Linked DNA regions of Homo sapiens. The protein of the gene in region 1 interacts with the protein of each later gene in a pairwise test. Each region holds a gene or a part of one and is shown in the gene's direction. Other genes may lie near its edges.

The links. The genes of interacting proteins can lie anywhere in the genome.
Region 2: the proteins of CHAF1A (region 1) and SERTAD1 interact in binary tests that used the Homo sapiens proteins (3 or more experiments, as listed by UniProt).
Region 3: the proteins of CHAF1A (region 1) and NOTO interact in binary tests that used the Homo sapiens proteins (3 or more experiments, as listed by UniProt).

Annotation. Positions count from the first base shown.
Region 1 is NC_000019.10:4,426,640-4,433,662, forward strand, and holds part of CHAF1A (chromatin assembly factor 1 subunit A), read left to right. Parts: intron 1-2,024; coding exon 2,025-2,251; intron 2,252-2,798; coding exon 2,799-2,967; intron 2,968-3,068; coding exon 3,069-3,149; intron 3,150-3,909; coding exon 3,910-4,002; intron 4,003-5,312; coding exon 5,313-5,568; intron 5,569-6,430; coding exon 6,431-6,900; intron 6,901-7,023. UniProt on the Homo sapiens protein: Acts as a component of the histone chaperone complex chromatin assembly factor 1 (CAF-1), which assembles histone octamers onto DNA during replication and repair.
Region 2 is NC_000019.10:40,422,993-40,430,060, reverse strand, and holds the start of SERTAD1 (SERTA domain-containing protein 1), read left to right. Parts: upstream 1-4,068; 5' UTR 4,069-4,194; intron 4,195-6,514; coding exon 6,515-7,068. UniProt on the Homo sapiens protein: Acts at E2F-responsive promoters as coregulator to integrate signals provided by PHD- and/or bromodomain-containing transcription factors. Stimulates E2F1/TFDP1 transcriptional activity.
Region 3 is NC_000002.12:73,197,646-73,205,573, forward strand, and holds the start of NOTO (homeobox protein notochord), read left to right. Parts: upstream 1-4,928; 5' UTR 4,929-5,021; coding exon 5,022-5,403; intron 5,404-7,928. UniProt on the Homo sapiens protein: Transcription regulator acting downstream of both FOXA2 and Brachyury (T) during notochord development. Required for node morphogenesis.

The DNA of each region.
Region 1 (7,023 bases):
AATTTTGTATTTTTAGTAGAGACGGGGTTTTTCCATGTTGGTCAGGCTTGTCTTGAACTACTGACCTCAGGTGATCCGCCTACCTCGGCCTCCCAAAGTGCTGGGATTACAGGTGTGAGCCACCACGCCCAGCTACAGTGTCTTTCATTATACTGAAATTTCTCCTTTTGGCCAGGTGCGGTGGCTTATGCCTGTAATCTCAGCATTTGGGGAGGCCAAGGCGGGTGAATCATCTGAGGTCAGGAGCTTGAGACCAGCCTGGCCAACAAGGTGTCTCTACTAAAAATACTAAAAATACAAAAATTAGCCGGGCGTGGTGGTAGGCGTCTGTAATCCCAGCTGCTCATGAGGCTGAGGCAGGAGAATCGCCCAACCCAGGAGGCAGAGGTTGCAGTGAGCCGAGATTGCACCACTGTACTCCAGGCTGCGCAATGAAGCGAGACTCCATCTCAGAAAAAAAAAAGAGGAGTTGTGATCTTTCAAAAAAAGACCCTGTCTTTTTTTTTTTTTTTTTTTTTTTTTTTTTTTGAGAAGGAGTCTTGCTCTGTTGCCCAGGCTAGAGTACAGTGGCGTGATCTGGGCTCACTGCAACCTCTGCCTCCCAGATCCAAACGATTCTCCTGCCTCAGCCTCCTGAGTAGCTGGGACTACAGGTGCCCACCACCATGCCAAGCTAATTTTTGTTTTGTTTTGTTTTGTTTTGTTTTTGAGATGGAGTCTTGCTCTATCCCCCAGGTTGGAGTGGTGCAGTGGCACGATCTCGGCTCACTGCAACCTCTGCCTCCCAGGTTCAAGCAATTCTCCTGCCTCAGGCCCAGGCTAGAGTACAGTGGCGTGATCTGGGCTCACTGCAACCTCTGCCTCCCAGATCCAAACGATTCTCCCGCCTCAGCCTCCTGAGTAGCTGGGACTACAGGTGCCCACCACCATGCCAAGCTAATTTTTGTTTTGTTTTGTTTTGTTTTTGAGATGGAGTCTTGCTCTATCCCCCAGGCTGGAGTGCAGTGGCACGATCTCAGCTCACTGCAACCTCTGCCTCCCAGGTTCAAGCAATTCTCCTGCCTCAGGCTCCCAAGTAGCTGGGACTACAGGTGCATGCCACCGTGCCCGGCTAATTTTTTGTATTTTAGTAGAGACCGGGTTTCACTGTGTTGCCCAGGCTGGTCTCGAACTCCTGAGCTCAGACAATCCACCCGCCTCGGCCTCCCAAAGCGCTACAATTACAGGCGTGAGCCACCGCGCCTGGCCTAATTTTTGTATTTTTAGTAGAGACGGGGTTTCACCATCTTGGCCAGGCTGGTCTCGAACTCCTGACCTCAGGTGATCCGCCCTCCTCAGCCTCCCAAAGTGGTGGGATTACAGGCATGAGCCACTGCCCCTGGCCTAATTTTTGTTTTTAGTAGAGATGGGGTTTCACCATGTTGGGCAGGCTGGTCTCGAACTCCTGACCTCAGGTGATCCGCCTTCCTCCGCCTCCCAAAATGGTGGGATTACAGGCATGAGCCACTGCCCCTGGCCTAATTTTTGTTTTTAGTAGAGATGGGGTTTCACCATGTTGGGCAGGCTGGTCTCGAACTCCTGACCTCAGGTGATCCGCCCTCCTCAGCCTCCCAAAGTGGTGGGATTACAGGCATGAGCCACTGCCCCCGGCCTTTTTTTTTTTTTTTTTTAAGTGAGGTTTGTTGAGATATAATTTACATCCAATAAAATAAACTCTTTTCAGGACATTTGTGTTGACAAATGACAGGGCCAGCTAACCATAATGAAGATAAACCCTATTTCCATCACTCAAAACAGCTCCCTTGTAGTCTGTCCCCCCACCGCCGGCCCTTGAGACTGCCAATCTGCCCTCTGCCCTGTAGCTCTGGAAACTCGGCTCTGTGGACCCACACAGTGCCTGGGCTTTTGAGTCTGTGCCTTGGCCTTAGCCTGGATGAATCCCACCAGCACCCTGCTGTGTGCGTCCATGGTGCCTCCTTTCTCCCATTGCTCGAAGACCCCATCGGGTCTCTTCTTGATTTCAGACCCTGGCCGGCTCCTGTGGGAAGTTTGCCCCCTTTGAAATTAAAGAGCACATGGTCCTGGCCCCTCGGCGTCGGACCGCTTTCCATCCAGACCTCTGCAGTCAGCTGGACCAGCTCCTCCAGCAGCAGAGCGGCGAGTTCTCCTTCTTGAAAGACCTCAAAGGCCGGCAGCCCCTGAGGTCCGGACCCACGCACGTTTCCACCCGGAATGCAGATATTTTTAACAGGTCAGAGCCTGAGGAGGTCGGCCTTCACCCACTAGTGATGCTGGAGGCCAGCATCCTGAACCCTGGGGTCCCCGGGGTGGGAGCTCTGGGTCCTTCTGTTGCTTGCTTCCTAGTGCCCTCGGGCCCTGGGCTTCGGTGCTGGCTCAGGCCTCTCTCCACCTGGCCTTCCTGTAAGCTCCTGAAGTCTTCCTCTCCCTGTCTTCCCAGCTCCTCGTGGAGGAATCTTATTTCCCTGCTGGTCTCCAGTGAAGGATACCCCCCAACACCTCGCTCTTGCAAATCTCATTCCACAGAACCTCCCTTGCTAAAAATGCTCTGGGGCTGCACCTGGGCAGCTGTCCTCCCTCTCACCCTGCAGGCTGCACCCTCCTCCATCTGTCCCTTCAGTCCATGTTCCTGACCTTTCTTTGGGGACAGGCAGTGCTGCTTTTTAACAAATGCCCATCTTTCTAGAATTGTTAGGCCAGCTTCACAGGGAGGTTCCTGGGAGGTTTGTGAGCAGGTCTGTAAGGCAGCGTGATCCTGAGCCTGGGGTTTTCCTTCTCAGTGATGTCGTCATCGTGGAGCGTGGGAAGGGCGACGGTGTTCCCGAGAGGAGGAAGTTTGGCAGGATGAAGCTCCTGCAGTTCTGTGAGAACCACCGGCCTGCCTACTGGGGTACCTGGAATAAGAAGACGGCACTCATCCGCGCGCGAGACCCCTGGGCCCAGGACACGGTGAGCTAGCCCCAGAGTGCCTCCGTCCCCGTACCTCCTCACTGTGCCCCTTTCCTCCAGCCCCAAAGACAGTTGTGAGTCCCATGTGTTTCTTTTCTCAGAAGCTCCTGGACTATGAGGTGGACAGTGATGAGGAGTGGGAAGAAGAGGAGCCTGGGGAGTCCCTGTCCCACAGTGAGGGGGTAAGGATGTGCCCCAGCTGTCTTCACTCACAGACGGCTTGTGTTTGAGTCTCTGTCCCACAGTGAGGGGCTAAGGATGCAGCCCAGCTGTGTTCACTCACTGACAGCTGGTGTTTGACCTGCTGTGTGGTCTGAAACCTGAACGCACCTCAACATCCAGACTTCCAGCTTCTCTCGAAAAATCTCATCTGGTGACACTCGCCCACGTGGCTGCTGGGGATGGGATCCCGTCCGCATCTGCACCGTGGCCCCACAGCCCCCTCTTGCCTCCTGCGGGCCTGCTGCACACCATTTCCTCCTGACTGCCCAGCTGCTGTGACCTAGTGGGCTTTCTGCCGATGCTCACCGTGTCTGTCGGGAGGCCATGCAAAGCAGATGTTCACAGCTTTACATTTTTTTGTTTCTTTAAGATGGAGTCTCACTCTATCACTCAGGCTGGAGTGCAGTGGCGCGATTTCGGCTCACTGCAACCTCTGCCTCCCAGGCTCAAGTGATAGTCCTGCCCCAGCCTCCCTAGTAGCTGGGATTATAGGTGCGTGCCACCATGCCCAGCCAAGATTTGTATTTTTAGTAGAGACAGAGTTTTACCATGTTGGCCAGGCTGGTCTCAAACTCCTGACTTCAGATGATCCGCCCACCTCAGCCTCCCAAAGTGCTGGGATTAGAGGTGTGAGCCACTGCGCCTGGCCTACTTTGTTTTTAATAAGGCACACACTCTGCTTTTCTATCTGATGAACTCTTTTTTTTTTCTCCTTTTGAGGATGATGATGACGACATGGGAGAGGATGAAGATGAGGACGATGGTTTCTTTGTGCCCCATGGGTACCTGTCTGAGGACGAAGGTGTGACAGAGGTGAGGGAGTGAAGGGGGAGGTCACCGGCTCAGCAAAAGTTCATTTCTGGACTGGTGCTCAGTGGCCTGACCTGGGAGGGTGACGGGGGTCCCAGCCCAACCATACGAGATTTGGACTGCATTCCAAGCACGCAAGCTCACTCGTGGGAACAGCTGGGCCTGAACTTGGTATTACCTGGGAGGGTGGCAGACGTAGGAGGAGCTTGCAAGCGAGGGGAGCCATAGGAGCAGACACCCTGGTGAGGGAGCGTGGCCATGGTCTGTGGGTTAGAAGGCTGGAAACCACCCGAGCTGACATACAGTCAGCATGCAGCAAGACATGTGCATTGTAAGTGTTGAGTTTGATGACGTAACAATCAAGTGAATGTGGGCAACCACCGCCCGAAATAAAACAGAACTTCCCTATCTCTCCAGAAGATTGCCCACGTCTCTGCAGGCGAACCTGCCTGCCACCCCTTTCCAGATTCCATAAGGTTGTGGAACTGTCTTTTTTTTTTTTTTTCTTGAGACGGATTCTCATTCTGTTACCCAGGCTGGAGTGCAATGGCCCGGTGTTGGCTCACTGCAACCTCTGCCTCCCGGGTTCAAGCAATTCTCCTGCCTCGGCCTCCCAAGTAGCTGGGACTACAGGCGTGTGCCACCACACCTGGCTAATTTTTGTATTTTTAGTAGAGACGGGAGTTCATTATGTTGGCCAGGCTGGTCTTGAACTCCTGACCTCCAGTGATCCACCCGCCTCGGCCTCCCAGAGTGCTGGGATTACAGGCATGAGCCACCGAGCCCGGCAGGAACTTGCTTTCAAGCAAGTTGTTTTTGGTCCTGTTTTGTTTTGAAGGCCTGTCGTTTGGGAAGTGGGGATTTGGTGGGACTGTCTCATGGTTGGACTGGAGGCCTAGGCATTCCTTGTGCATATCTGACCACCGAGGCCTGAACTGTCAGTCAGAGAGTGGTCTCAGGCCCTGCATGTGTCTGCCAGATGCCTGGGCCATGTGGGTAGACACCCAACCCTGTTAAACGGCTCCACGATCACACATTCACCAGAAAATTCAGAGGGGTGTTAAAAGAGGCCTCATGGGTGAGTTCAGAAATATCTGTGACGCTCCCAAAGGAGACCAGGTGTGAATTATTCCATCTGGAAGAGGGGCAGCCAGCGCATGGTGTGCTCTGCCCTGGCCCTGACACTGTGGGAAGTTTTGTGCCCCTGTCCTTTCCTCTTGCTCCCCAGCTGGCTGGGGACTGGTTCCTCAAAAGAGTGCCCGGGCATAGGGGAGCAAGAACCCCAAATAAACTTCTGCTTTCTAAACCACAAGGAGTGTGCCGACCCTGAGAACCATAAGGTCCGCCAGAAACTGAAGGCCAAGGAGTGGGACGAGTTCCTGGCTAAGGGGAAGCGCTTTCGCGTCCTGCAACCTGTGAAGATCGGCTGCGTGTGGGCGGCTGACAGAGACTGCGCAGGCGATGACCTGAAGGTACTGCAGCAGTTCGCAGCCTGCTTCCTGGAGACCCTGCCGGCCCAGGAGGAGCAGACGCCCAAGGCCTCCAAGCGGGAGAGGAGAGACGAGCAGAGTGAGTGTGGGCGGGGCCAGGCCACCCACCTGTTCCTGGGCCCAGCTAATTCCAGGGCTGAGGGCAAGAGTCACAGGCTAGTGGGTCCGTGATGCAAATGTTCTTTCCACAAATAACAGAGGCCAGCCCTTTTCCTGTACATGTCCGTACGTTCAATGATGTCCCTAGCAGCAGGACGAGGCAGGTCCCTTAATTGGCTTGTTTTATCAACCAGGACACAGGCACAGAGAGTGCTGGAGTGGGGGCTGTGCTTTCTCAAAAGCCAGGGAGGGGCCGGGCACAGTGCCTCATGCCTGTGATGCCAGCACTTTGGGAGGCCAAGGTGGGAGGATCGCTTGAGCCTAGTGCTTCGACACCAGCCTGGGCAACATGGCAAAACCCCATCTCTGCAGAAAATGCAAAATTACCTGGGTGTGGTATCACGCACCTGTGATCCCAGCTACTCAAGAGGCTGAGGTGGGAGGATTGCTTGAGCCTAGGAGTTTCAGACCACAGTGAGCCATGATCCTGCCACTGCACTCCAGCCTGGGTGACAGAGCAAGACCCTGTCTAAAAAAAAAAAAAAACTCAAAAAACTGGGGAGGGACCATGGCACACAAGGAGAGCAGGGCAGTCATTTGGGTAGGAACAGCAGGCATTTGAAGTCAGCCCTGGCAACACACGTGCCCGGCCAAGGCTCACTTCTGGGCAGGTGCGTAGGTGCTACCCTGTCTTACACCCGCCCTCATGAGGCCACCTATCCCCGAAGCTGGCCATGCCCCAAGCCTCGGTGGCAATGAGCTTGTGTATGTGTTTTGTTTTTTGGCCTGTGGTGATGGGTGGCTCCCCAAGCCTCATGCCCACCCATGTTCCCTCCTGCCAGTCCTGGCCCAGCTGCTGCCGCTCCTGCACGGCAATGTGAACGGGAGCAAGGTCATCATCCGGGAGTTCCAGGAGCACTGCCGCCGGGGACTGCTCAGCAACCACACCGGCAGCCCGCGGAGCCCCTCCACCACCTACCTGCACACCCCCACCCCCAGCGAGGATGCCGCCATCCCCTCTAAGTCCCGGCTCAAGCGGCTCATTTCCGAGAACTCAGTGTATGAGAAGCGGCCTGACTTCAGGATGTGCTGGTACGTGCACCCGCAGGTGCTACAGAGCTTCCAGCAGGAGCACCTGCCCGTGCCGTGCCAGTGGAGCTATGTGACATCGGTGCCCTCGGCCCCCAAAGAGGACAGTGGCAGCGTCCCCTCCACGGGGCCCAGCCAGGGCACTCCCATCTCGCTGAAGAGGAAGTCAGCGGGCAGCATGTGCATCACCCAATTCATGAAGAAGCGCAGGCACGACGGCCAGGTGAGGTGGGGTGGGCAGGTGGGGGCCTCTGCAGGGCTTTTCTTTTTTTGTTTGTTTTTTGTTGTTTTGTTTTTTTTTCGAGATGGAGTCCTGCTCTGTCACCCAGGCTGGAGTGCAGTGGCG
Region 2 (7,068 bases), about 36 Mb from region 1:
AGGTCAGGAGTTTGAGGCCAGCCTGGCTAACATGGTGAAACCCTGTCTCTACTAAACATACAAAAATTAGCCAGGCATAGTGGCATGCACCTGTATCCTAGCTACTCAGGAGGCTGAGGCAGGAGAATCCTTGAACCCGGGAGGCGGAAGTTGAAGTGAGCCAAGACCACGCCATTACACACCAGCCTGGGCGACAGAGCAAGACTCCATCTCAAAAAAAAAAAAAAAAAAAAAAAAAACTGGCCAAGTGCGGTGGCTCACGCCTGTAATCCCAGCACTTTGGGAGGCAAAGGCGGGCGGATCACGAGGTCAGGAGATTGAGACCATCCTGGCTAACATGGTGAAACCCCGTCTCTACTAAAAATACAAAAAAAAAAAAAAGGAAAAAAAATTAGCCGGGCGAGGTGGCGGGCACCTGTAGTCCCAGCTATTCAGGAGGCTGAGGCAGGAGAATGGCATGAACCCAGGAGGCGGAGCTTGCAGTGAGCCGAGATCGTGCCACTGCACTCCAGCCTGGGCGACAAAGTGAGACTCCGTCTCAAAAAAAAAAAAAAAAAAATCACAAAACCTCCTGGGCTTAAGTTCCCGCCTTGGCCTCCCAAAGTGCCAGCATTACAGGCATGAGCCACCACATACATCTTGGAGATAGGATCTTCACAGGCTCTAAAGCATCATCCCAAAGGTTATTTGCTAACTAGAAAGGATAAATTTATTTTACGATGTAACCCTCACAATCTTAATCACGTGATGAAACTCTGCATTACCAATGGTGGGACATCCTGACACTGGTGCCAACTACTATAATGCGTTAGGATTAGGAAGTACATTAATAAGGATTAGGACACACCCTGTGGAGTCTCCCTGTTCACTGCATAAGCAGAATCTCACCAGGCCCCTAGACCCAACCTCCAGCTTATTGGAAAAAGAGAGGAACAAATTAAACACAGTCAGACAAATCCAGAATGTGGGACACTATGCAGCATGACTAGTCTGTTTTGCCAGAAATTCAATGTCAACAAAACATCAAAAAGGATTTGAGGCTGAGTGTGGTGGCTCATGCCTGTAATCCCAGCACTTTGGGAGGCCAAAGCGGGTGGATCACCTGAGGTCAGGAGTTTGAGACCAGCCTGGCCAACATGGCGAAACCCTGTCTCTACTAAAAACACAAGAAAATTAGCCAGGCGTGGTGGCGCACGCCAATAATCCCAGCTACTCGGGAGGCTGAGGCAGGAGAATCACTTTAACCCGGAAATGGAGGTTGCAGTGAGCCAAGATCATGCCACTGCACTCCAGCCTGGGCGACAGAGCAAGACTCTGTCTCAAAAAAAAAAAAAAAAAAAAAAGGGATTTGGGTGGGGGAATATTCGAGAATAAAATATAGTATGTAATTTCTTCATTACAACCAAATTAGCATGTGAACCTTCATTGGATCCTGATTTTGGAGAAAAGAAAGCAACTATAAAGGATATTCTTGGGTCAGTTGGAGAGATTTGATTAGGTGATATTGTGGAATTCTTGATTCTATTAGATGTGAAATAGTATTTTTGTGGCTTGTACATGAATGTCCTTATTCTTTTTTTTTTTTAGGTGGAGTTTGCTCTTGTTGCCCAGGCTGGAGTGCAATGACGCAATCTCAGCTCACTGCAACCTCCACCTCCTGGGTTCAAGCAATTCTCCTGTCTCAGCCTCCTGAGTAGCTGGGATTACAGGCACATGCCACCATGCCCGGCTAATTTTTGTATTATTAGTAGAGACGGGGTTTCATCATATTGGTTAGCCTGGTCTCGAACTCCTGACCTCCGGTGATCCACTCGCCTTAGCCTCCCAAAGTGCTGGGATTACAGGTGTGAGCCAACGCACAGGGCCTAATGTCCTTATTCTTAAGAGATGCCTCCTGAGCTGTTAAGGGTAGAATATCAAGATGCTTGCAATTACTCTCCAAAGGTTTAGCAAAAGAAACAATATATACACATATGTAGATAAAGGGAACTTAGCACAATGTTACCAACTACTACTTTTTTCTTTTTTTTTTTTTTTGATACAGGGTCTTGTTCTGTTACTCAGACTAGAGTGCAGCGGCATGAACATGGCTCACTGCAGCCTTGACCTCCTGGGCTCAAGGAATCCTCCCACCTTAGCCCCACAAGCAGCTGGGACCACAAGAACATGCTACCACGCCTGGCTAATCCTTTTTTTTTTTTTTTTTTGAGACAGAGTCTTGCTCTGTTGCCCAGTCTGGAGTGCAGTGGCGCTGTCTTGGATCACTGCAACCTCTGCCTCCTGGGTTCAAGCTATTCTCCTGCCTCAGCCTCCTGAGTAGCTGGGATTACAGGCGCCTGCCACCACACCTGGCTGATTTTTTGTATTTTTAGTAGAGACAGGGTTTTACCATGTTGGCCAGGCTGGTCTCGAACTCCTGACCTCGTGATCTGCCCACCTCGGCCTCCCAAAATGCTGAGATTACAGGCGTGAGCCACCACGCCCGGCCCACGCCTGGCTAATTCTTAAATTTTTTTGTAGTGATGAGATCTCACTGTGTTGCCCAGGCTGGACTCAAGTGAACTCCTGGACTCAAGTGACCCTCCTGCCTTGGCCTCCCAAAGTACTGGATTACAGTTGTTGCCTAGCTAACAACTATCAATTAAATCTAGGTGAGAGAGTATTCAGGCGTGAGCCACTGCATCCGGCCATGGGAGGAGTATTATACCCTGTCTACCTCTAGCCCCATCCTGCATGTCTATCCACCTTGAACTAAGAGCTTGTCTTATTACAACAGCTATTACTACTAACAAAGAAACAACGTTGCTAACCAGGCATGGTGGTGTGCGCCTGTAGTCCCAGCTGCTTGGGGGTCTGAGGCAGGAGGATGGCTTGAACCTGGGAGGCTGCAGTGAGCCGAGATGGCACCCCTGCACTTCAGCCTGGGTGACAGAGCGAGACCCTGTCTCAAAAGCAAAATAAAATAAAATAAAAAGTAAAGAAAAAAATAATAAGCAGCTGGGCGCGGTAGCTCACGCCTGTAATCCCAACACTCAGGGGCCGAGGAGGGCGGATCACCTGAGGTGAGGAGTTTGAGACCTGCCTGGCTAACATGGTGAAACCCCATCTCTACTAAAAATACAAAAATTAACCGGGCGTGGTGGCGCACGCCTGTAGTCCCAGCTACTCGGGAGGCTGAGGCAGGATAATTGCTTGAACCTGGGAGGCGGAGGTTACAGTGAACCGAGATCGTGCCCCTGCACTCCAGCCTGGGCGACGGAGTGAGAATCTGTCTCAAATAAATAAATAAATAAATAAATAAAATGAAAAAAAAAAAAAAAACACAAAACATGTTGCACCCCACTCTGAAGATTTTTCATGAATTAATTTAATCCTTAAAAACAATCCTGTAAACTAGGCGCTATTTTCTCTCATTTTAAAGGAGAAACAGACCAGAAGGGATTAAAACACTTGCCGCAGGTCACACAGCTGCTTAGGGAATGGAGCCCGGGATGTGATTCCGTTGGTATCGCACTCCCACCTCACTCCCGCCTTTAACCACAATTAAGTCCAACTGTCCAGCATTGCTTGAGTGTGGTATTGTGTTCTTATAGATACGATCCTACTTAAAGTATCCTGTCAAGAGGTAGGCAAGACGATCCCCATTTAACTTTGTGTAGCTTGAAGAGGTTGATCATTTTTCCAAGGTCACGCATCCAGTGAGTGGGGAATCCGGAGTCGGAATTTGAACCCGGGCATTATCTGTAGTGTAGACCCCTGTCGGGGCTGGATGTGTAAGAAGCTTAATTGCCGGGTTTGGCAGGTGCATGGGTAGTTGTGAGGGGCTCGTATTTTGAGAGGCAAAAGCCCCCACTCGCCACCGTTCCCCGGAGTAAAAAGCCACCTCTTTCCACCCCTCACTCGCGCAGCTGCCCGGGCATGCGCCCTGAAGCCCCTCCTTCAGAATCCGCCCCCTACAAGCTCCGCCCATCACCATGCAGGGCCAATCCCTGGGGCGGAGGGCGGGGCAGCCACGAGAGTGGGCGGTCGCTAAGGGTAGTTAGGAGTCTGGAGTCGTGAGCCGGAGTCAGAACTGCGTCTCGCGACCCAGGCGCGGGTTTCCGGAGGACAGCCAACAAGCGATGCTGCCGCCGCCGTTTCCTGATTGGTTGTGGGTGGCTACCTCTTCGTTCTGATTGGCCGCTAGTGAGCAAGGTATGTAAATGAAGGGGCCTGGGAACAGAAGGGCTACCAGCGGCCGGGTCCTTCACAGAGTTCGATCCCTGGGTCCGACAGGTGCCCGCCGGGGCTGCCCGGGATCGAGACGCACGGACCTCTACGTGCTGTCTGCCCCGGCCGGGCCGGGTGAATCACGCCGCAGTCCGAGAAGGGGGCGGAGGCGCCGGCTTCTTGGCTCCGGCTGCGTGACTCACCCGCCCCCGCCGCCGCCGCTTCGGGAGGAGCCGCCTCCACTGCCGGAAGCGAGCGGAGGCCGGGCGCAGAGAACAGCCCGCCAGGGGTCCCGGCTCGCACGGCGCCGGGAGGCCGGCAGGAATCACAGCCGGGAATCGGGGCAGTAGAAGGGGTCCTGGGGTCAGAGGGGCCAGAATCCCCGGGGGAAAGCCGGCCTGGGCACCGCTAGGGGGCGCCGGGACCCGGGGGCGGAGTCGGGGGTGGGGGCGGAATTCCTGCGGTTCCGGACTCCCCGGACTGCGGGGAAGGGGACGAAGACCCTGTTTTGAGTAGTGTGGTGGGCCATTCTTAAAATCTTGCTAGGCAGGGTTCCGAAACTGGACTCTACAGTCTTCCTGGCCCAAAAAAGTAGGTAGCGCCAGGAGTCCAAAACTCCAGCCCTACCCCCGCCACTCCAAGAACAGTGGACCCTCAAACTTATCTCAGTGACTGAACCCGGTGCCGATCACGATTTCCCGACAAGCCCTGTCTATTCTGCCTCCCAAATAAGTCCTGACTCGACCGACTTCCTTCCATGCCACTACCAGCTCCTACTCCAGGCCATCACCATCGTCCGTCCCAAACGAGTACAGCCTACCAGTGGGTCTCAGATCCCCCCTCTTTTTGCCCCCCACAGTCTTCCTCGAAGCAGCCATGGGGGGGATCTTCCGGAAACCTAATCAGCTCACAGCACCATTCCCTCCCTGCTCAAATTCCTTTAATGACTGCCCACCACACTCAGGATAAAATCCAAACTCCCTACTTCTGCATATGTGGCTTTCTGTGACCTGGCTTGTGCCCGTTCCCCTAGCTGCTCCCCAATCTGGTCTCCTACCATGTCACTCTCTGTGTGCCACCCATGCTGGTCTCTTTCCAGTTCAAGCCCATCCAGCCTCTGGGCTTTTCTCTGCCTTTTTTTGTTGTTCCCTCCTCCCGGAATGCTTTTCCCAGGGTCTCCCATGGCTGACTTCTCTGGCCTGAGGGCTCCATTCAAATGTCACCTCCTTACAGGAGCCTTCTCTGATGATCTAAAAGGTCTCTAGGAACTTTTAGTGTCTTCCTGTAATTCTCTGTACATTTCCTGTGTTTCCTTATTTATTTACTGTTTGAAACATAGTCATAGTAGACAATAAATATTAAACTACGTGAAACTAGTTTAGTATTTATAATATTATAACTTATTTAGATATAATTATGTTATTATAATAAAATATGTGAAACAGCTGCTTTTGTAGGGGAAAAAGTTGAATATTGGCCATTCCACATGGTTCACTGAAGAAATAATAATGTTATCATTAAGTGTACTTATTGGCAGGGTGAGGCAGCTCACACTTGTAATCTCAGTACTTTGGGAGGCTGAGGAAGGAGGATGGCTTGAGGCAAGGAGTTTGAGACCACCCTGGGCAACATAGTGAGACCATGTCTCTACAAAAAAATAAAAGGGAAAAAAAAAAGTACTTATTGACTGAGGGGGGAGGATCGCTTCAGGCCAGGAGTTTGAGACCAGCCTGGGCAATATAGTGAGACCCCATCTTTATTTTTTCAGATAAAAAAGTCTATAAATATACTTAAATATAAAATTTAAAATTTAAGAAGTCTATAGGCCAGGCGCGGTGGCTCACGCATGTAATCCCAGCACTTTGTGAGGCAGAGGTGGGCGGATCACTTGAGGTCCAGGAGGTCGAGACCAGCCTGGCCAACATGGTGAAACCATGCTTCTTCTAAAAATATAAAAATTAGCCGGGTGTGGTGGCATGTGCCTGTAATCCTAGCTTTTGGGGAGGCTGAGGCACGAGAATCATTTGAACCTGTGAGGCAGAGGTTGCAATGAGCTGAGATCACGGCATTACACTCCAGCCTGGGCAACAGAGCGAGACTCCATCTCAAAAAAAATCTATAAATATACATATACAGTTAAATAAAAATTGTCTATATCTTTAAAGTTCCCTAAGAAAAGCTAGGCACAGAGAGGTTAAGTGACTTCCCCAAGATCCTACCTGCAGCAACTGTCAGATCCAGGCTTTGAACTTAACATTTGTTTTCTATAACTGACTATAACTCCATAACTCCCTGCCCTCTGCAGATGCTGAGCAAGGGTCTGAAGCGGAAACGGGAGGAGGAGGAGGAGAAGGAACCTCTGGCAGTCGACTCCTGGTGGCTAGATCCTGGCCACACAGCGGTGGCACAGGCACCCCCGGCCGTGGCCTCTAGCTCCCTCTTTGACCTCTCAGTGCTCAAGCTCCACCACAGCCTGCAGCAGAGTGAGCCGGACCTGCGGCACCTGGTGCTGGTCGTGAACACTCTGCGGCGCATCCAGGCGTCCATGGCACCCGCGGCTGCCCTGCCACCTGTGCCTAGCCCACCTGCAGCCCCCAGTGTGGCTGACAACTTACTGGCAAGCTCGGACGCTGCCCTTTCAGCCTCCATGGCCAGCCTCCTGGAGGACCTCAGCCACATTGAGGGCCTGAGTCAGGCTCCCCAACCCTTGGCAGACGAGGGGCCACCAGGCCGTAGCATCGGGGGAGCAGCGCCCAGCCTGGGTGCCTTGGACCTGCTGGGCCCAGCCACTGGCTGTCTACTGGACGATGGGCTTGAGGGCCTGTTTGAGGATATTGACACCTCTATGTATGACAATGA
Region 3 (7,928 bases), on another chromosome or scaffold:
ATCTCCCCTTGCCTGAAGGTCTTGTAATGGCCTTCCTTGAAGTGGTGGCCCTCTGGATTTACCTCCACTGCCTCTCATTGCTGGTAGACTCAAGTTCAAACAGGCTACAGAGAATGAAGTACAAAGCCTTTCCCATGAGACAGTGGTATGATACACACCAAAACAATTTCATGATGTTGCCAATTTACATATACAGAAACCTGGGGAAATGTATGGACATGGATCCCAAAGGTGTGAGATGAGGACAGAAGAAATATAAAGTCATATTAGGCTGAATCTATTTATAAGGGCCAACTAAGCAGAGATTCCTGATTCAATGTCCTAGCTTGAGTGAGTCTAACAGTTTGTTCAGTTGGTTGATATCAACTTCTAGATGAAGTTGGCACACTGTAGAAGAGGTATCAAATGGCTAAGGAAGGCTAGAATGCTAGGGTAGACTTGCCATGGAAGACCTATTTACCTGCCCCTGTAATATGTGCCCAGGTTAGTTCTAGAAGACACTTCCTTCATCAAGCCTATGAGAAATGCATTCAAGAGGAAAGCCCTGATATCCTTGAAGAACTCGATGGTGGCTATTCTCTGTAGGCCCGAAATGACGGAGGGAACTTATGCTATCAAGCTGGGCTCCCAAAATTCAATGGGGATGATGTGACAAGTAGGTGTGGTTACCATAATGGCTCATGAAAAATGTGAACATGGCGAGAGGGATGGAGGTTGGACAGGGGCTTAGTAACATGGATTTCCATTCCCTAAAACCAATCTGACTACAGCCATTGCTGAGTGCCCAACCTGCCAACAGCAGAGACCAACACTGAGCCCCCAATATGAAAACCAACTAGCCACCTAGTGCCAGGGTAATCACATAGGGGCATTACTTTGTTCTTACTGGAATATCCATTTACTGTGACATAGATTTGCTTTCTCTGCCCACAATGCTTCTGCCAAAATCAACATCTCTGAACTTATAGAATGCTTTGGCATTCCATATAGCATTGCTTCTGACAAAAGAATTATTTCACAGCAAGTAAAGAACAGCAATGGGCTCAGGCTCATGGTATTCACTGGTCTTACCATTACCCTGAAGCAGCTGGCTTGAAAGAACAGTAGGATGACCTTTTGAAGACTTAATTATGGCACTAGCTGGATAGTAACATGTTGCAGGGCATGGGTAATGTCCTTCAGATGCAAGATGTGCTCTAAACCGGCAACCAACATATGGTGCTGGGAGAAATCCCAAACCAGGATTTGTGGGTCAGAGGGTAGAAATGAGAACAGATCTCCTCAATATAACACATAGTGTTTCTCTAGCAAAATTTTTGCTTCCTATCTCGGTAACTTTGTGCTCTGCTGATCTAGAGATACTAGAGTTCCCAAGAGTGAACTATTTCCACATGAGACACAGCAGTGGTTTCACTGAACTGGCAGTTAAGACTGTCGCTGGCTACTTGGGCTTCTCTCACCAGTGAATCAATAGGCACTGAAGAGTATTATCAGACTCTCTGGGTGACTGATCCTGACTGTCAGGGGGATAATGGGAACAACATGGTATTTCCATATCCTGTGATTAAAATCAATAGCAAAACTACAACTAAATAAAGGAAGGACTGATAATGGTCCAGACCAGGAACAAGTGGGCACTGAATTTTCACAAAGTATAAAGATCTGTGTAACCAGCATCCAGATGAAGAAATAGAACACTGGCCGGGCACGGTGGCTCACATCTGTAATCCCAGCACTTTGGGAGGCTGAGGCGGGTGGATCACCCAAGGTCAGGAGTTTGAGACCAGCCAGCCTGACCAACATGGTGAAACCCTGTCTCTATTAAAAATACAAAATTTGCTCGGCATGGTGGCACATGCCTGTAATCCCAGCTACTTGGGAGGCTGAGGCAGGAGAATCGTTTGAACTGGGAGGCAGAGGTTGCAATGAGCCAAGATCATGCTACTGCACTCCAGTCTGGGCAACAATAGTGAAATTCAATCTCAAAAAAAAAGAAAATAAATAGAACACTGCTACCACCACAGAAGTTCCCGTCATGCCCTTTGCCACTCATTAACCACCCCCAAGCATTCTCCTGACTTCTAGTAGCATAGATAAGTTTGCCTTGTTTTTTTATTTTTTTATTTTTTTGAGACAAGAGTCTCACTCTGTCACCCAGGCTGGAGTGCAGTGGCGCAACTTTATTCTACTGTTGGTAGACATTCTGGTAGTTTCTGATTTGGGGCTATTGCAAATAATGCTGCTGTGAACATTCTGAAACATGTCTCTTGTTAAACACATATGTATATTTGTGTTGGGTATACACTATACCTAGGATAGGAACTGCTGGATCAGAGGGTTAAGCTTAAGTAAATACTGCTTATCCATTTTTCGAAAGTGTTTCTACCAATTTATATGCCCACACTCAGTGGATAAGAGTTCCAGATGCTTCATATTATCATCAACCCTCGGTATTTTCTTTTTCTTTTTCTTTTTCTTTTTCTTTTTTTTTTTTTTTTTGAGACAGAGTTTTGCTCTTGTTGCCCAGGCTGGAGTGCAATGGCTCACTACAACCTCCGCCTCCCAGGCTCAAGCGATTCTCCTGACTCAGCCTCCCAGGTAGCTGGGATTATAGGTGTGCACCACCACACCTGGCTAATTTTGTATTTTTAGTAGAGATGGGGTTTCACGATGTTGGTCAGGCTGGTCTCGAACTCCTGACCTCAAGTGATCCACCCGCCTCAGCCTCACACCTGCCTTGGCCTCCTAAAGTGCTGGGATTTACAGGTGTGAGCCACCGTGCCCAGCCAGCCCTTGGTATTTTCCATCTTCTGGTGCGTGTATAGTGGATCACGATGTGATTTGAATTTGCATTTCCCTGATGACTCACAGAGTTCAGTATGTTTCATACTTTTTTTTTTTTTGAGACAGAGTCTCGCTCTTTCGCCCAGGCTGGAGTGCAGTGGTGCAGTCTTGGCTCACTGCAACCTCCGCCTCCCAGGTTCAAGCAATTCTCCTGCCTCAGCCTCCGAGTAGCTGAGATTACAGGCACCCACCACAACACCCAGCTAGTTTTTGTATTTTTAGTAGAGATGGGGTTTCACCATGTTAGCCAGGCTGGTCTCAAACTCCTGACCTCAAGTGATCTGCCCGCCTTGGCCTCCCAAAGTGCTGGGATTACAGGCATGGGCCACCGCGCCCAGCCACATATGGTTTTAAGCTATTCAGATATTTCCTTTTATAAAGTGCCTAGTTCATGTACTAACCCATCTCAGTGGTCTTTTTAAAGTCTGTTGTAGGGCTGGGTGCGGTGGCTTACGCCTGTAATCCCAGCACTTTGGGAGGCCAAGGCGGGTGGATCACCTGAGGTCAGGAGTTCAAGACCAGCCTGGACAACATGGTGAAACCCCATCTCTACTAAAAATACAAAAAATTAGCTGGGCATGGTGGCGGGTGCCTGTAATCCCAGCTACTCAGGAGGCTGGGGCAGGAGAATCGCTTGAACCCAGGAGGCAGAGGTTGCAGTGAGCCGAGTGCCATTGCACTCCAGCCTGGGCAACAAGAGTGAAACTCCATCTCTAAATAAATAAATAAATGAATAAAAATAAAGTCTGTTATTCGTTTGGCTTTATTTTTGGTATACTTAACAAAAATTAGCTGGGTGTGGTGGCACATGCCTGTAATCCCAGCTACTGAAGCAGGAAAATCGCTGGAACCTGGGAGGCAAAGGTTGCAGTGAGCCAAGATTGTGCCACTGCACTCTAGCCTGGGCAACTCCATCTCAGAAAAAAAAAAAAAAAGGACTACTAAAAGAATGAAAAGGCAGGCCACAGAGTGACAGAGGTTATCTGCTTCTATGTATATTACAACGAAGGACTTGATTCCAAATTATCTATACATAAAACTCTTACAATAAGAAAAACATAGTGACCCAATACAAAAATAAGCAAACCAGTTGAACAGGCACTTCACACAAAAGAGGATATCCAAGTGGCTGATAAGCATGTAAAAAGATGCTCACAATGAACGGTCTTCAGGGAAATAAATGCAAATTAAAACCACATACCTAGGGGATTTGAAACAAGGCAGTTCTGTTAACCTCTCTTGCTGTATTTACTAATATGTAAATTGGAGATATTAATGCTTATGCTCAGGAATTTACAGTCTGAAGAAGGAATAAATGACACAACAGAAAACTGATAATTATGTATGGAAACACAGAATTATATACTAAAAGTCCAAGGTTAGAGACATAGTGGCCATATCTTTTACCCCTAAATCAACTCAAATCAAATCAAATCAAATCCTGAGCTCAAGCGATCCTCCCGCCTCGGCCTCCCACACAAGTACTGGGATGCCAGGCATGAGCCACTGCACCTGGCCAAAAAAAATATTAAAGAAAGAACGAAATTGGTAATCACAGCGCATCTCAAGGCAGGGAAACTAAAGGGCTGAGGCCAGATGGAAAATGTACTTATCACTGTGCTTATAAATAAAATATTTACATTTTAAAACAAACAAACAAAAAGTCCGCGCGGTCCTAGGTGAATCTGGCCGAGGCTTCTGCGTCAAGGACGGCGCGGGTCAGCTGAGGCCAAGACCGCAGGCACTGCCCTACCGCTCTCCAGATCACAGCTCCGCCTCTGCAAGGCCCCGGGGAAACGGGCATCCCTTCTTCAGTGAGCAAAGGAGAAAGACGGAGCCCGGTGGCTGGGTGTTTCGCCCAGGATCACCAGCGAGCTCAGAGTCCTCCCCACGACCGCCCCAGGGTGGGCATTTTTAAAAGCGGAGGAAGGGAGGGAACACACTCTTTGGTGCTGTGCCCACCTTGCCTCGCACAGAGCGGGCGCTCACAGGCTTTGGGGGCCCCGCCCGGACCGCAGTGGGGAGAGGCCGCCCCATGCCCCGCCCCGCCAAATTTAAGAGCCTTCGCCGAGCGCCAGGAGGTTCCCAGACAACCGGTCTTGCTCGCTGCCTTTTGCAGAATCTTCTCACTTCTCCCGAGCTCCCTTCCTTGCGTCCGTCCGGGCAACGGCCGCGTCATGCCTAGCCCCAGGCCGCGAGGCAGCCCGCCACCCGCTCCCTCGGGCTCTCGGGTCCGACCTCCGCGCTCTGGCCGCTCTCCGGCGCCCAGGTCCCCTACTGGCCCGAACACGCCCCGCGCTCCCGGACGCTTCGAGTCCCCTTTCTCGGTCGAGGCCATCCTGGCGAGGCCCGACCCCTGCGCGCCGGCGGCCTCCCAGCCGTCGGGCTCCGCCTGCGTCCACCCGGCCTTCTGGACCGCTGCTTCCCTGTGCGCCACCGGGGGTCTGCCCTGGGCTTGCCCGACATCGTGGCTGCCCGCCTACCTGAGCGTAGGTTTTTACCCTGTGCCAGGGCCGCGCGTGGCTCCCGTCTGCGGCCTGCTGGGCTTCGGCGTCACAGGTACTGCGGTCCCGGCGCCCGCACGCGGGGGACTGGGCGGGGGCTGGAGAGCCTAGGTCGCCACTGCCGGCGCCCCAGTGCAGGAGAGGGCACTGAGTGTGAGAATCACACACGGCTGGAGTGGGAAGGGGCTCTGCCACCGTTTACCTTGCAGTTGAAGCCGAGGACCGCGACAGTCTTGCTGAAAAAGACCCCGGCGCGAGGCTTCCCCCGCACGCTGCTGAGGTGGGAGAGGGTGGGTGTGAGGGCGGCGCAGCGCCTGAATGCGGTGGGCAGGAGGCCAGCGCTGGGGCTGCAAGGGGACCCAGCCCTGCTCCCGGTCTCCGCGTCCCTTGACTCCCTCGCACACCCCGGGGTAGCGCTTAGTGACAGAGACGCTTCCCAAAGCGGCTCTCGACCCGAACCAATGGCCCTGTTTTTTTTTTTTACGGGGTAGGGGGAAGTGGACGCTCCGGGCGGTGCTGTTGAGCGAGGAGCTGTTAGGAGCTGGTCAAGGCTCACACCCCACTACCGCCTCCACTGCTCACGTCTGTGAACTTGAGCTACACACTTCGCTCTGAGCCTGCGTGCATGCAATGCTCTTAAGTAGTGCTTAAGGGCCAGGCACTTAAATCTCATGAGAAAGTAATTGTAAGGTTGGGCGCGGTGGCTCACGCCTGTAATTTCAGCACTTTGGAAGACCGAGGCGGGTGGATCACCTGAAGTCAGGAGTTCAAGGCCAGCCTGGCCAACATGGTGAAACCACATCTTTACTTAAAAGACAAAAAATTGGCCGGGCGCGGTGGCTCACGCCTGTAATCCCAGCACTTTGGGAGGCCGAGACGGGCGGATCACGAGGTCAGGAGATCGAGACCATCCTGGCTAACACGGTGAAACCCCGTCTCTACTAAAAATACAAAAATTAGCCGGGCATGGTGGCGCGTGCCTGTAGTCCCAGCTACACAGGAGGCTGAGGCAGGAGAATGGCGTGAACCCGGGAGGCGGAGCTTGCAGTGAGTCGAGATCGCGCCACTGCACTCCAGCCTGGGCGACAGAGCGAAACTCCGTCTCAAAAAAAAAAAAAAAAAAAAAGACAAAAAATTAGGAGGGCGTGGTGGCGCGCGCTTGTAATCCCAGCTACTCAGGAGGCTAAAGCAGGAGAATCACTTGAACCCGGGAGGTTGAGGTTGCATTAAGCCGAGATTGCGCCACTGCACTCTAGCCTGGGCAACAGAGTGAGACTCCGTCTCAAACAAACAAATCAACAAAAAAAAGTAACTATAGAGGGAACTTTGCCTTCTAGCATTAAACATCCACCTACACGTGCTTTTGCCATTTTTGGTTGCCAGGTTCATGTTTCCCCATGTCCCCACGAAGAAAACAGGAGCAAAGTTAGTCCAAGCCTTATCAACCCATACAAAGATAGTTGTAACACAGTCTTGCCGGGTTCCTACTCCGTGGCACCCACCCCAATCCTGCATTTCCTCACCCCATTTCAGCAGTGCATTAACCCTTGGACTCGCAGCCCCATCTAAATTCAATACCACTGGATCTGGGAGCTGTGCCCATCACTCCCAGTCACCTTTCTCTGAGCTCTTCACACACCTGAGGTCTGAATTACAGTTTACTACTTCATGTTACAGTTGCCTCATTTTCAAGTTAGTTGTTTTCTTTTGTTCTGTTTTGTTTTGTTTTGAGACGGAGTCTCACTCTGTCTCCCAGGCTGGAGTGCAGTGGCGCTATCTCTGCTCACTACAACCTCCTCCTTCCGGTCTCAAGTGATTCTCCTGCCTTAGCCTCTGGAGTGGCTGGAATTACAAGCCCCAGCACCATGCCCGGCTAATTTTTTTTATTTTTTTATTTTTTTTTTTTGAGGCGGAGTCTTGCTCTGTCCTTAGGCTGGAGTGCAGTGGTGCAATCTCGGCTCACTGCAAGCTCCGCCTCCCGGGTTCACGCCATTCTCCTGCCTCAGCCTCCCGAGTAGCTGGTACTGCAGGCACATGCCGCCACACCTGGCTAATTTTTTGTATTTTTAGTAGAGACGGGGTTTCACCATGTTAGCCAGGATGGTCTTGATCTCCTGACCTCGTGATGTATTTCTTTTTCTGTGAACTACTGTTCTTGTATTTTGCCCATATGTATAGTTGGTTATTTAAAACAATCTATTTGTAGATGCTCTTTTCTATTGAGGAAATTAGCCCTGGCTGGGTGCAGTGGCTCACCCCTGTAACTCCCTCACTTTGGGAGGCCAAGGCGGGTGGACTACTTCAGCTCAGGAGTTGAGACCAGCCTGGGCAACATGGCAAAACCCCGTCTCTACTAAAAACACAAAAATTAGCTGGGCATGGTGGTGCGCACCTTGGCGGGGGCTGAAGTGGGAGGATTGCTTGTGCCTGGGAGGCAGAGGTTGCAGTGAGCCGAGGTCAAGCCACTGAACTCCAGCCTGGGCAACAGAACAAGACACTGTCTCAAAAAATTAAAAAAGAAATTAGCCCTTTAACTGTAATGAACTACAAATGTTTTTCTGTGTATTGGCCTTTGACTTT